Linked DNA regions of Homo sapiens. The protein of the gene in region 1 purifies or fractionates together with the protein of each later gene. This does not show direct contact. Each region holds a gene or a part of one and is shown in the gene's direction. Other genes may lie near its edges. The genes, in order: TUBGCP5, ASPM and MZT2A.

Region 1 (3,649 bases):
AGCCAAACTGCAGACCTGACATGGTTTCACCAGTGTCGCAGGAACTTGCTTTGAACAGGGGTGGGTGTGGTATATTCATGTATAGTTTATCACATGTCTAGCTCCACATAGCCACTTCCATGTTCAGATCACAGCTGTGCCATCGCCTCCCAGGAGCTTGCTTGTGCAGCCCTTTGTAGGCACAGCCTCCCTCACCCCTCTCTGTAACATTAGCCCATTGGGAGGTGTTTTGTTTTACCTAGTGTAATTTTAATTTGCGTTCTTTTATTATAAGTAAGGTCAAGTGACTTTCTGTATGTTTTAGAATCACTCATCATTCCTTTTTTATGAACTGTCAGTTCCTTTATACATTATTTTTCTGCTGAGTTGTCTTTTTCTCTGTGACTTGCAGGAGTTCTTCCTTAGGGAAATTAGGTCCTTGTGGTATGAGATTAAAATCCACCGTCCTCCATTTTGCCCTGCCTGTCCATAAGCCTGATGATTTGCCAGCATTTATGTCACATTTTAGATGCATGTATTTTTCCTTGCTGTTGAGTTTGATTTATTGATATTTGCAGATACTACAATAACTCTTGCAATAGTGGTGGACAAGTTGGCACCTCGATTGTCTCAGCTCAAGGTTCTGCACAAAGTGTTTAGTACTGGAGTAGCAGAAGTTCCACCTGATACTCGAAATGTCGTCCGGGCCTCTCACCTGCTTAACACCCTGTACAAGGCCATTCTTGAATATGACAATGTTGGAGAAGCCTCTGAGCAAACCGTAAGTGAGACTTCTGCCTAAAGTGTGTGACTCCATGCTGCACAGCAGAGGAGTGATAGACAGCTGATGGTAGTTCTTTGTTGATACTTGAATGATGACTCGTCAGACAGTTCAGAGTTTTTAAATTAACTTCCAAATTTAAGGCTGTAGGAAACTGGCTTTTCAGCTCTAATTGCCAAGATCCTCAGAAGGATGAGGCAAGGACAAGGCAAGCTGTGAGAAGTACCTACCTGATGTGTATAGATATTTACAATAACGCTTTCTTACATAAACACTAACATGTAACTAACATGACATGAGATAGCTGAAGTAGACACATCCACAGAAACAAAGTGGAATGCTGGTTACCAAGGGCTGGGGAATGGGGAGCTGTTGTTTAATGGGTACAGAGTTTCAGTTTTATAACATGAAAAAGTTCTGGAGATTTGTCACAACGATATGAATGTACTTAAAACCTCTGAACTTAAAAATGCTGAGGGTCAGGCACAGTGGCTCGTGCCTGTAATCCCAACACTTTGGGAGGCCGAGGCAGGAGGATTGATTGAGCCCAGGAGTTTGAGACTTGCCTGGGCAACATAGTAAGACTCTGTCTTTAAAAAATTAGTTAAATTAAAATTTTTTAAAATATACAGTTAAGATAAATTTTATGTTATATATTTTATATTGTATTTTAAAAAATACAAATCTAGGCCATGCATAGTGGCTCACGCCTGTAGTCCCAGCTACATATGAGTCTGAGGTGAGAGGATCACTTGAGCCCAGGAATTTGAGACCAGCCCGGGCAACATACTGAGACCCTGTCTCTACAAAAAATTTTTAAAGTAGCCAGGTGTGCTGACACCAGGAATTCGAGACCAGCCTGGCCAACATGGTGAAACCCCGTCTCTACTAAAAATACAAACATTAGCCTAGTGTGGTGGCGAACACCTGTCATCCCAGCTACTCAGGAGGCTGAGGCAGGAGAATTGCTTGAACCCGGGAGGATGCAGTGAGCCGAGATCGCACCACTACACTCCAGCCTGGGCAACAGAGCAAGACTCTGTCTCAAAAAAGGTAGCCAGCTCTGGAGGCACATGCCTATGGTCCCAGGTACTCGAGAGGCTAAGGCAGGAAGATGGCTTGAGTGTGGAAGGTCAAGGCTGCAGTGAGCCATGTTTGTGCCACTGCACTCCAGCTTGGGTAACAGAGCAAGACCCTGTCTCAAACAATATATAGATTTAAAAATAAAAATCTAACTAGAGGCTGTAATTTAGAATGCTACAGTCTTAGTTGGGTATGTACATTAGGTGTATTTTCTAGTTTGTTGGTATAACTTTTTTTCACACCAATTTAATACCATATTTCTTTTTTTCTTTTTTTTTTTTTTTTTTTTTTGAGACGTAGTCTTGCTCTGTTGCCAGGCTGGAGTGCAGTCGCACGATCTTGGCTCACTGCAACCTCCACCTCCCAGGTTCAAGTGATTCTTCTGCCTCAGCCCCCTGAGTAGCTGGGACTACAGGCGCACATCACCATGCCCGGCTAATTTTTTGGGGTTTTTTTTTGTTTTTTGTTTGAGATGGAGTCTCGCCCTGTCGCCCAGGCTGGAGTGCAGTGTCATGATCTTGGCTCACTGCAACCTCTGCCTCCTGGGTTCAAACTATTCTCCTGCCTTAGCCTCCTGAGTACCTGGGATTACAGGCGCCCACCACCATGCCCATCTAATTTTTGTATTTTTAATAGAGATGGGGTTTCACCATGTTGGCCAGGCTGGTCTCGAGCTCCTGACCTCCTGATCCGCCTACCTCGGCCTTCCAAAGTGCTGGGATTACAGGCATGAGCCACCACACCCAGCTGTATTTTTTTTTAATAGAGATGGGGTTTCACCATATTGGCCAGGCTGGTCTCAAACTCCTGCCCTTGTGATCTGCCCACCTCAGCCTCCCAAAGTGCTGGGGTTACAGGCGTGAGCCACCATGCCCAGCCAATTTCCTCATCCTTAATGGATGCTTTGCTAGTAATAGGATTTAGATAGGGAAACCTTGTTCGCTTGCCTGGGCTATCTCAGGATACACCTGCTGCCTCTGTGTCACTTTCACTCTCAAGTTTCCCAGTCTGGACTACAAACAATATGATCATCCCATATTTAGGTGAGTTTTTCTTTTTTCTTTTTTTTTTCTTTTTGTTTTGAGACAGTGTCACTCTGTTGCCAGGCTGGAGTGTAGTGGCACGATCTTGGCTCATTGCAGCCTCCACCTGCCAGATTCAAGCAATTCTCCTCCCTCAGCCTCCCAAGTAGCCAGGACTACAGGCGCGTGTCACCATGCCCAGCTAATTTTTGTATTTTTAGTAGAGAGGGGGTTTCACCATGTTGGCCAGGATGGTCTCGATTTCTTACCTCAGGTGATCCGCCCACCTCGGTCTCCCAAAGTGCTGGGATCACAGGCGTGAGCCACCACGCCCGGCATTTAGGTGAGTTTTTCATAAGGATTTTATAGTGTATGTTTTTGGATTTTTAATTTCTTTGTGCCCCAAAAAACATAGAAATCCGATCACTTTTTTAAAGGCATTTCAGAAATGTTTAAACCTCCTTTTATCCTAGTGACCAGGGAACCCTGAGAGCTGACCGTGCACACTCTCTGCCTCAGGTCTCCCTCCTTTTCTCTCTCTGGGTGGAAACGGTGCGGCCTTACCTGCAGACGGTGGACGAGTGGATCGTGCACGGGCACCTGTGGGATGGCGCCAGGGAGTTCATCATCCAGAGGTGAGCTGCAGCAGAGCACAAGGTCACTGGGGGCTGGCATCACCAGTTTCCTCCCCATGAAAATCAAATGCTTTCGTTAGTTTCAGACAGTACTGAGAAAGCACAGTTCACATCACAGAACTTGTCGTCATCATAGGCAAGTTCTATCT
Region 2 (3,649 bases), on another chromosome or scaffold:
GTTCTCATTCAGGCTACTTTCAGGATGTACAGAACATATATTACATTTCAGACTTGGAAACATGCTTCAATTCTAATTCAGCAACATTATCGAACATATAGAGCTGCAAAATTACAAAGAGAAAATTATATCAGACAATGGCATTCTGCTGTGGTTATTCAGGCTGCATATAAAGGAATGAAAGCAAGACAACTTTTAAGGGAAAAACACAAAGCTTCTATCGTAATACAAAGCACCTACAGAATGTATAGGCAGTATTGTTTCTACCAAAAGCTTCAGTGGGCTACAAAAATCATACAAGAAAAATATAGAGCAAATAAAAAGAAACAGAAAGTATTTCAACACAATGAACTTAAGAAAGAGACTTGTGTTCAGGCAGGTTTTCAGGACATGAACATAAAAAAACAGATTCAGGAACAGCACCAGGCTGCCATTATTATTCAGAAGCATTGTAAAGCCTTTAAAATAAGGAAGCATTATCTCCACCTTAGAGCAACAGTAGTTTCTATTCAAAGAAGATACAGAAAACTAACTGCAGTGCGTACCCAAGCAGTTATTTGTATACAGTCTTATTACAGAGGCTTTAAAGTACGAAAGGATATTCAAAATATGCACCGGGCTGCCACACTAATTCAGTCATTCTATCGAATGCACAGGGCCAAAGTTGATTATGAAACAAAGAAAACTGCAATTGTGGTTATACAGAATTATTATAGGTTGTATGTTAGAGTAAAAACAGAAAGAAAAAACTTTTTAGCAGTTCAGAAATCTGTACGAACTATTCAGGCTGCTTTTAGAGGCATGAAAGTTAGACAAAAATTGAAAAATGTATCAGAGGAAAAGATGGCAGCCATTGTTAACCAATCTGCACTCTGCTGTTACAGAAGTAAAACTCAGTATGAAGCTGTTCAAAGTGAAGGTGTTATGATTCAAGAGTGGTATAAAGCTTCTGGCCTTGCTTGTTCACAGGAAGCAGAGTATCATTCTCAAAGTAGGGCTGCAGTAACAATTCAAAAAGCTTTTTGTAGAATGGTCACAAGAAAACTGGAAACACAGAAATGTGCTGCCCTACGGATTCAGTTCTTCCTTCAGATGGCTGTGTATCGGAGAAGATTTGTTCAGCAGAAAAGAGCTGCTATCACTTTACAGCATTATTTTAGGACGTGGCAAACCAGAAAACAGTTTTTACTATATAGAAAAGCAGCAGTGGTTTTACAAAATCACTACAGAGCATTTCTGTCTGCAAAACATCAAAGACAAGTCTATTTACAGATCAGAAGCAGTGTTATCATTATTCAAGCTAGAAGTAAAGGATTTATACAGAAACGGAAGTTTCAGGAAATTAAAAATAGCACCATAAAAATTCAGGTATTTCTATATTTAATTTAAATATAAAACTGTGAGTCTTTCTTTTGACCAATATTTGTTAGAATGTATAAAATGAGCTTAAGCAGGTCATAAAGAATAGTACTTAGTTGAGGTGACCATTTATCTTCCAAAGTGGAACATTTTTGAAAGAGGGAAAGGGCACTAGTAAGTCAGCCAAGACAGCACAGAACGGGGATTGTTCTGGCCATGGTCACCCTATGTGTGGTGCATTTCAGTATGGGTTAATTGTAGCACTCTTAGAAGAATTTTGAGAAAATAGGAGTCCTGTATTTGGCAAAGTTATTTCTTTAAGTGGAAAATATAAGCTAAGATAAAGTATTATTTGGCATAATATAGGCAAAATAGAGTAACTTTGTTCCTCTAATAATCTATTAACCAGAGCTGTTTGCTGCTTAGGCTAGTAGACATACTTTATTCTGAGTGTTTAGTACTTTGGCTTCCAAATCAATTTTGTATTATTTTGTTTTGTCTATTTGCCAAATGTGTGAGGAATGTACAGTATTATCTCTTTTAAAATATGAAGGAAGTGATAAAGTTTAAGTAATTTGGCCAATGTTGCATAGAGAGAGGCAGATCCAGGAACTGAATCTAAGTACTTCAGCTATTTCTTTTTACCTGCAATAACCCAGGCTTTAACCCAGATGTGATATGTTCATATCTTACTGGATTACTGTTAAATTTAGAAATAATGTTTTAATTCAAGAAATGTCAAGTGCTAGAAATGTGCCAAATGCTGTAGTGGGTGTTATAAATAGACAATGAGTAAGATATACTTAGTTGCTGTCCTCAAGGAACTTAATTGAACAAGGAAGTATAATTATAATACAACATGAGAAGTGTATGTTTCAGGAAACACAGAATGGGAAATCAAGCTAGTCTCCATGGTCAGAGACTTCCCAGAGTGAGTAACATTTAAGTTGAAATGTTACACTGAAGTATGAATTAGAAATAGCCCAGTAAAAGGTATAGAAGAATATTCCAATTGCAAGAGATAACGTGGAAAAATCAAAAAACTAGAAACAATAAAAAGTGATATGGGACCAGGTTGGCAATAGAGGGAGTAAGATTGTGGATAGATTTTTAAGACAGAAAAAATTTAGTCTTTATGCTCCAGACAAAACAAATTCTAGAGGAGTTTAAGCAGGAGAAGACCACAGTCATTTTTATTAAAAAAAAAAAAAAAATTACTCTGGCAGGAATGTGGAAGATGGACTGGAAAAGGAGCAAGACTAGAATCAGGTAGACCAAATGAAAATAGGCAGTAAGCCAGGTGAGAAAGAGTTATAGTTCAGTGTAGGTTTGTGACAATGGGATTGTAAGTTGGCATTATATAGAGCATGAACAAGGAGGCAAGCCATGTTGATGGCTTAAGTAACTCAGCAGAGTTACTCCCTCACACCCTGACATAGGGAATAAAGAGGGAAGAGCAGGTTTTGAGATTGATGATGAATTCAGTTTGGAGTATATAAGATCTGAAGTACCTAGCAGGTAACCCCCTTGAAATATCTAGTAAGGCAGTTGACTATGTTTGTCTGGAGTTCAGGAGAGTAGTGTGAGTATTAGAATTTGATTTGTACATTATGGGCATATGCTAATAATTAAAGTTCTGGGAATAATGAGATCACCAAGGAACAATACATAAAATGAGTGAACAAAGAGGGCCTGGGACTTGAGCCCTGAAGAACATCAAAATTCACAGACATTGACAAGAGAAGCCAACAAGGTGTTAAGAGGGAAAGAAGAAAGGTAAGAGATTAATGGTATCAAGAAACCAAGGTGTTAAGAGGGAAAGAAGAAAGGTAAGAGATTATGGTATCAAATTCCTAACACTACTGAGAAGTTCACAATTGAAAGGTGTTCATTGGATGTATTAGTTATGGTTTTATTCACTTAAAATGATTAAATAGCCAAAATAACAATCTTATAAAAATTTTTTTCTCTTACATAATTACATAATAAAATTGTATTTTACACATATAATTTTTAGCCTATGCCAGTGGTCTAAAACTTTACTGCATATTGGAGTCACCTGGAATTTTAAAACATACTCCTACCTTTAGATATTCTAATTGGTATGGGAAGCAACACAAGCGTGGGATTTGTTTCAAAGCTCCCAGGTGACTCTAATGAGCAGCGAAGTTTGGGAGCCACTGGGATATAGTATACATTACTAAATACTTACATATATATGTAAATATGTATGTTTTATATATATATATATATCAACTTCTCTGTAGCATTTGGGATTTAAGCACACTTT
Region 3 (3,749 bases), on another chromosome or scaffold:
CACTACTGCAAAATGATCAAAGCAGCATTAAACTGTGGACTGCTGGATAAGTGCGGAGCTCTAGAGATGATGAAGGGGAGAGCATCTCTGCTCAGTAAAAGCTTTCATGGGCAGCGACTGAAAGAATGAGGCCCAGAGGAATTTCTAGGAACTTTCCAAGAGAGGAAATTCAAACCCGAGAACTCCCAAGAGGTGTCTCCCACACCCCTGTTCTCTGACCCTGCCATGGCCACCCTCCCCCGTCACAGGTCTCTGCGTGCCATGCACCTAGAGTCCACTTCGTCGCGACTCTCCAACACCTATTTTCTCCAGGAGCTGCTTCGGACCCGTTTGTTTTTTTTGTTTCGTTTTGTTTTGTTTTTCTGACAGCGACAGCCCTTGGGCAACGCTAATCATTCCAAGCAAATTCTGTCATGCCAAGACCTCCCTTAACAGCACGCGCCCACTTGTTTCCAACTCTCCTGCGAATTGGGCTTCGGGAGCCTCCGAAACCAAGGCTCGGAGATGTGGAGCGCACAGGGGAAGGGTCGAGCTGGGACCCACACCCGGCTCTTCCTCCCACACCGCCTGTTGAGCCCAAGGCTCAATTTCAACACAAAGCTCTCCTTCCCTCAATTCCTTCAACGACGGGTAACCTTCAACGAACACCTACCGGACCAGAACAGAGTGTACGAGCGGCGCGGGAAGGTGGCACAAAGGCATGGCCCAGAGGAGTGGCAGGAAGACTCAGCCGGGGCCCTCCACTCCCCAGCCTGCCCGGCCTGGGCAGAGCCGCCGGGCCGCCCGAGTCCTGGGGCTCGCGGAGGAACGGAGATGGCCTCCGCAGGGGCTCGCGGAAGCCCCCAGGGCGTCGGACCGTCTCACGCGCGCGTCCCGCGCCACTCACCTGTGGGACCCATAGCGTCGCCCGCTTCAGAGGTGGAAGCCGCCATTCCGCCACCGCGCCAAAACGTCGTCATCAAGCTGCGCGCAGAGCCACGCCCCGCGGCCGGGCGGGAAAAGCGCTTCTACCTCTTTGGGCCGTTACCTCAAAAGGTACGTGCGCAAAGCGAAGAAGGCCGGCCGGCCGGCCAGGGAGGGGAAATGGCGAGGCAGGAGTGCGGGGGGAGGGAGTGGTCCTTAGCTGAATGCGCCTGCGTTGTGGCGGCCTCTGGCGCCCCAAGGTAGGGCTCACGCACTTTCTCCCTAGCAAGGAATGCGCGTGCGCGTAAGCAGGGTTGTTGATTAGTGCCCCCCACCCCCCCCGAAGAGCGACCCCTAGTGGTGCACCGGTGCGGACCAGAAAATTGCACGCTTTCTTGAAACAGGTATTGACTGAGCGCCCAATGTATGCCTGGCACTGGGCTGGGTGCTGCCACCTAAGCGAGCACGACCAATGCAAGTCTATCAGGGACGCCCTGACCGCCAAGCAGCTGGCCCCTGCAGTCCGCCATGCCACTCCCGACGCCTAGCGCGCCGCTCAGCACACCGTGAGCGCCCACTAACTGTTGGGCTCCAATGACGCCGAGGAGGCGGCCCCGTCCCCGCGCTCCCGCCGCTCCCGCCAGGGCAGCCCGGGAGGCCAGACGCTGGCGCTGCAGGGAGAGGGCGGTGGGCGCATCCGCTAGGGGGCGCGGCGGGGCGGGGCGCACCTTTCGGCGGGCCTCGCGGATGGCGGCGCAGGGCGTAGGGCCTGGGCCGGGGTCGGCGGCGCCCCCGGGGCTGGAGGCGGCCCGGCAGAAGCTGGCGCTGCGGCGCAAGAAGGTGCTGAGCACCGAGGAGATGGAGCTGTACGAGCTGGCTCAGGCGGCGGGCGGCGGTATCGACCCCGACGTGTTCAAGTGAGCGGGGCGGGTGGGGGCCGCATGCTCGCCAGACACCCCCGACCTCTGCTCTCCGGGTACGCCCGGCCCGCTGGTCGGGAGGAGCCCCCGCTGCCCCCGCCCCCGTCCTTGTCCGGTCTTCAGGGAGGTGGCCGCGCCGGGCGGAGAGGGCTCACCGGCCCCGCGTCTGTCCCCGCCAGGATCCTGGTGGACCTGCTGAAGCTGAACGTGGCCCCCCTCGCCGTCTTCCAGATGCTCAAGTCCATGTGTGCCGGGCAGAGGCTAGCGAGCGAGCCCCAGGACCCTGCGGCCGTGTCTCTGCCCACGTCGAGCGTGCCCGAGACCCGAGGTCAGAGCTGGGCCCGCTGTCCCTGCCCCAGTGGCGGGGGTGGCGGGCGGGGAGGGGGCAGGCGCGGCACAGCGGCGGCGTGGCCCTGAGTGGCCAGGCCTGTCTGTCGGTCGGTCTAGGCCCAGCACCTGCAGGGCCCATCCGTGGGCTCTGCTCCTGGGCTTCGCTGCCAGCCTTAGGAGGCACGTCCAGGTCAGGTGGACGCAGAGTGCGTGCCCCAGGGTGGTCCAGGCTGGGTAGGGCTCCTCCGCTTAGCTCCTCCCCACCTCTTCACTCAGGCCTTCATCCTACAAAGTCGGGAATCAAGACGGTTTGGGGCTGGGCGCCGTGGCTCACGCCTATAATCTTTGGGACCCCACGGCGGGAGGATCCTTTGAGGCCATGAGTTTGAGACCAGTCTGGGTGACAGGGTGAGATCCTGTCTCTAAATGTTTTTCAAAAGACAGTCTCGATCTCTGTCCTGTGGTATACAGCATCCAGGGAAGTGCCCAGGGAGCAGGGCAGGCAGACGTCTTCCTGCCTTTACCCCACCTGGGCCCAGTTCCTGCCTCTGATGATTGCAGGAAGAGAGTTAGACGCGGAACTCCCAGGGTGCAGAGGCCTGCGGGGTCTGAAGGGCCTCCTCCCTCTCCAGTGTGGTGACTGGGCTGAGGAGATGCTGGGACTGAGAGTGTCATGGTGGAGCCTCCGTCCCTGCTCATCCTCTCCGCATGTTGCTTCTGCTCCCGATGGCTCTCTCTGAAATGCAGCACAACCTCCCAGGCCAATGGAAGGAGGCCCAGAGCTGGCTCCCTGCCTGGAAGCAGGAGGAGACCCTCACAGGCATCATGAGAAGGCGTGGAAAGCAGGCTGCCTTCATGGGGGAAGTGCCAGGGCCTGGGCACCCACGCCCGCTGACCCAAGAGGGCCCGGGCACCTGCGTGCTGGCCTCTTCACTGACCCTCGCTCTGTCTGCTCTCTTTGTGTCTCTCTCTGACCTCCAGAGGCCTCCTTTCTCTCTGCCAGGAACAGTAGCCCCCCTGCAAGGCCCTCGTTTTCCTCCAGCCCGCAGCCTGCGGCCTCTCTGGTTATGCTCCACAGCCCAGCTGCCACACACTCACCTCTCTCTCCAGGCCCCCCGGGTTCCCTCCGCCTCTCTTGCTGCCTGTTCTCTCCTTTTGCAGGTTGCGTTTATTGGCTTATCTCTGGGGGTTGGTGCTCTTCCTTGTTTTCATGGAAACTGCATGGCCCCAAGAGGCCCAAGCAGCTTTGAGCTGCAAGGGCAGGATCATGCAGGCCACCGCTGCCCTGCCGCTTAGCCACAGGGCACTATTTCTGACTCGGTTTATTAGAGACATGGTGTGGCAGTCTCTAGACCCCACAGTCGGGCTGGCATCCGGGGACAGGACCAACATCCCCACACCCCAGAGGCGAACTAGTGGTGAGTGTAAAGAGCCCCTCTCCAGGGGAAGACAGCCAGCCGGGTGCAGTGTGCTCTGCTGGAGAGCACAGCCCCAGGCGTGACAAACGCCTCGGCCTCTTAGAAGTTGTCCCCTACCTGGACAGGAAGTCTGGAGGCTGAAACAGAGACTCCCACCTTCCCAGAGTCTGCCAGGCAG

Evidence for each region.
Region 2: the proteins of TUBGCP5 (region 1) and ASPM purify together in Homo sapiens (affinity purification with mass spectrometry; 3 studies listed by BioGRID and IntAct, with this or other methods). This does not show direct contact.
Region 3: the proteins of TUBGCP5 (region 1) and MZT2A purify together in Homo sapiens (affinity purification with mass spectrometry; 3 studies listed by BioGRID and IntAct, with this or other methods). This does not show direct contact.

What each region holds. Positions count from the first base shown.
Region 1 is NC_000015.10:23,019,070-23,022,718, reverse strand, and holds part of TUBGCP5 (gamma-tubulin complex component 5), read left to right. Parts: intron 1-557; coding exon 558-760; intron 761-3,338; coding exon of another isoform or gene 3,339-3,384; coding exon 3,385-3,500; intron 3,501-3,649. UniProt on the Homo sapiens protein: Component of the gamma-tubulin ring complex (gTuRC) which mediates microtubule nucleation.
Region 2 is NC_000001.11:197,098,150-197,101,798, reverse strand, and holds part of ASPM (abnormal spindle-like microcephaly-associated protein), read left to right. Parts: coding exon 1-1,368; intron 1,369-3,649. UniProt on the Homo sapiens protein: Involved in mitotic spindle regulation and coordination of mitotic processes.
Region 3 is NC_000002.12:131,490,278-131,494,026, reverse strand, and holds the start of MZT2A (mitotic-spindle organizing protein 2A), read left to right. Parts: upstream 1-1,629; 5' UTR 1,630-1,650; coding exon 1,651-1,820; intron 1,821-2,002; coding exon 2,003-2,151; intron 2,152-2,790; exon of another isoform or gene 2,791-2,867; intron 2,868-3,134; coding exon of another isoform or gene 3,135-3,314; intron 3,315-3,749. UniProt on the Homo sapiens protein: Required for the recruitment and the assembly of the gamma-tubulin ring complex (gTuRC) at the centrosome.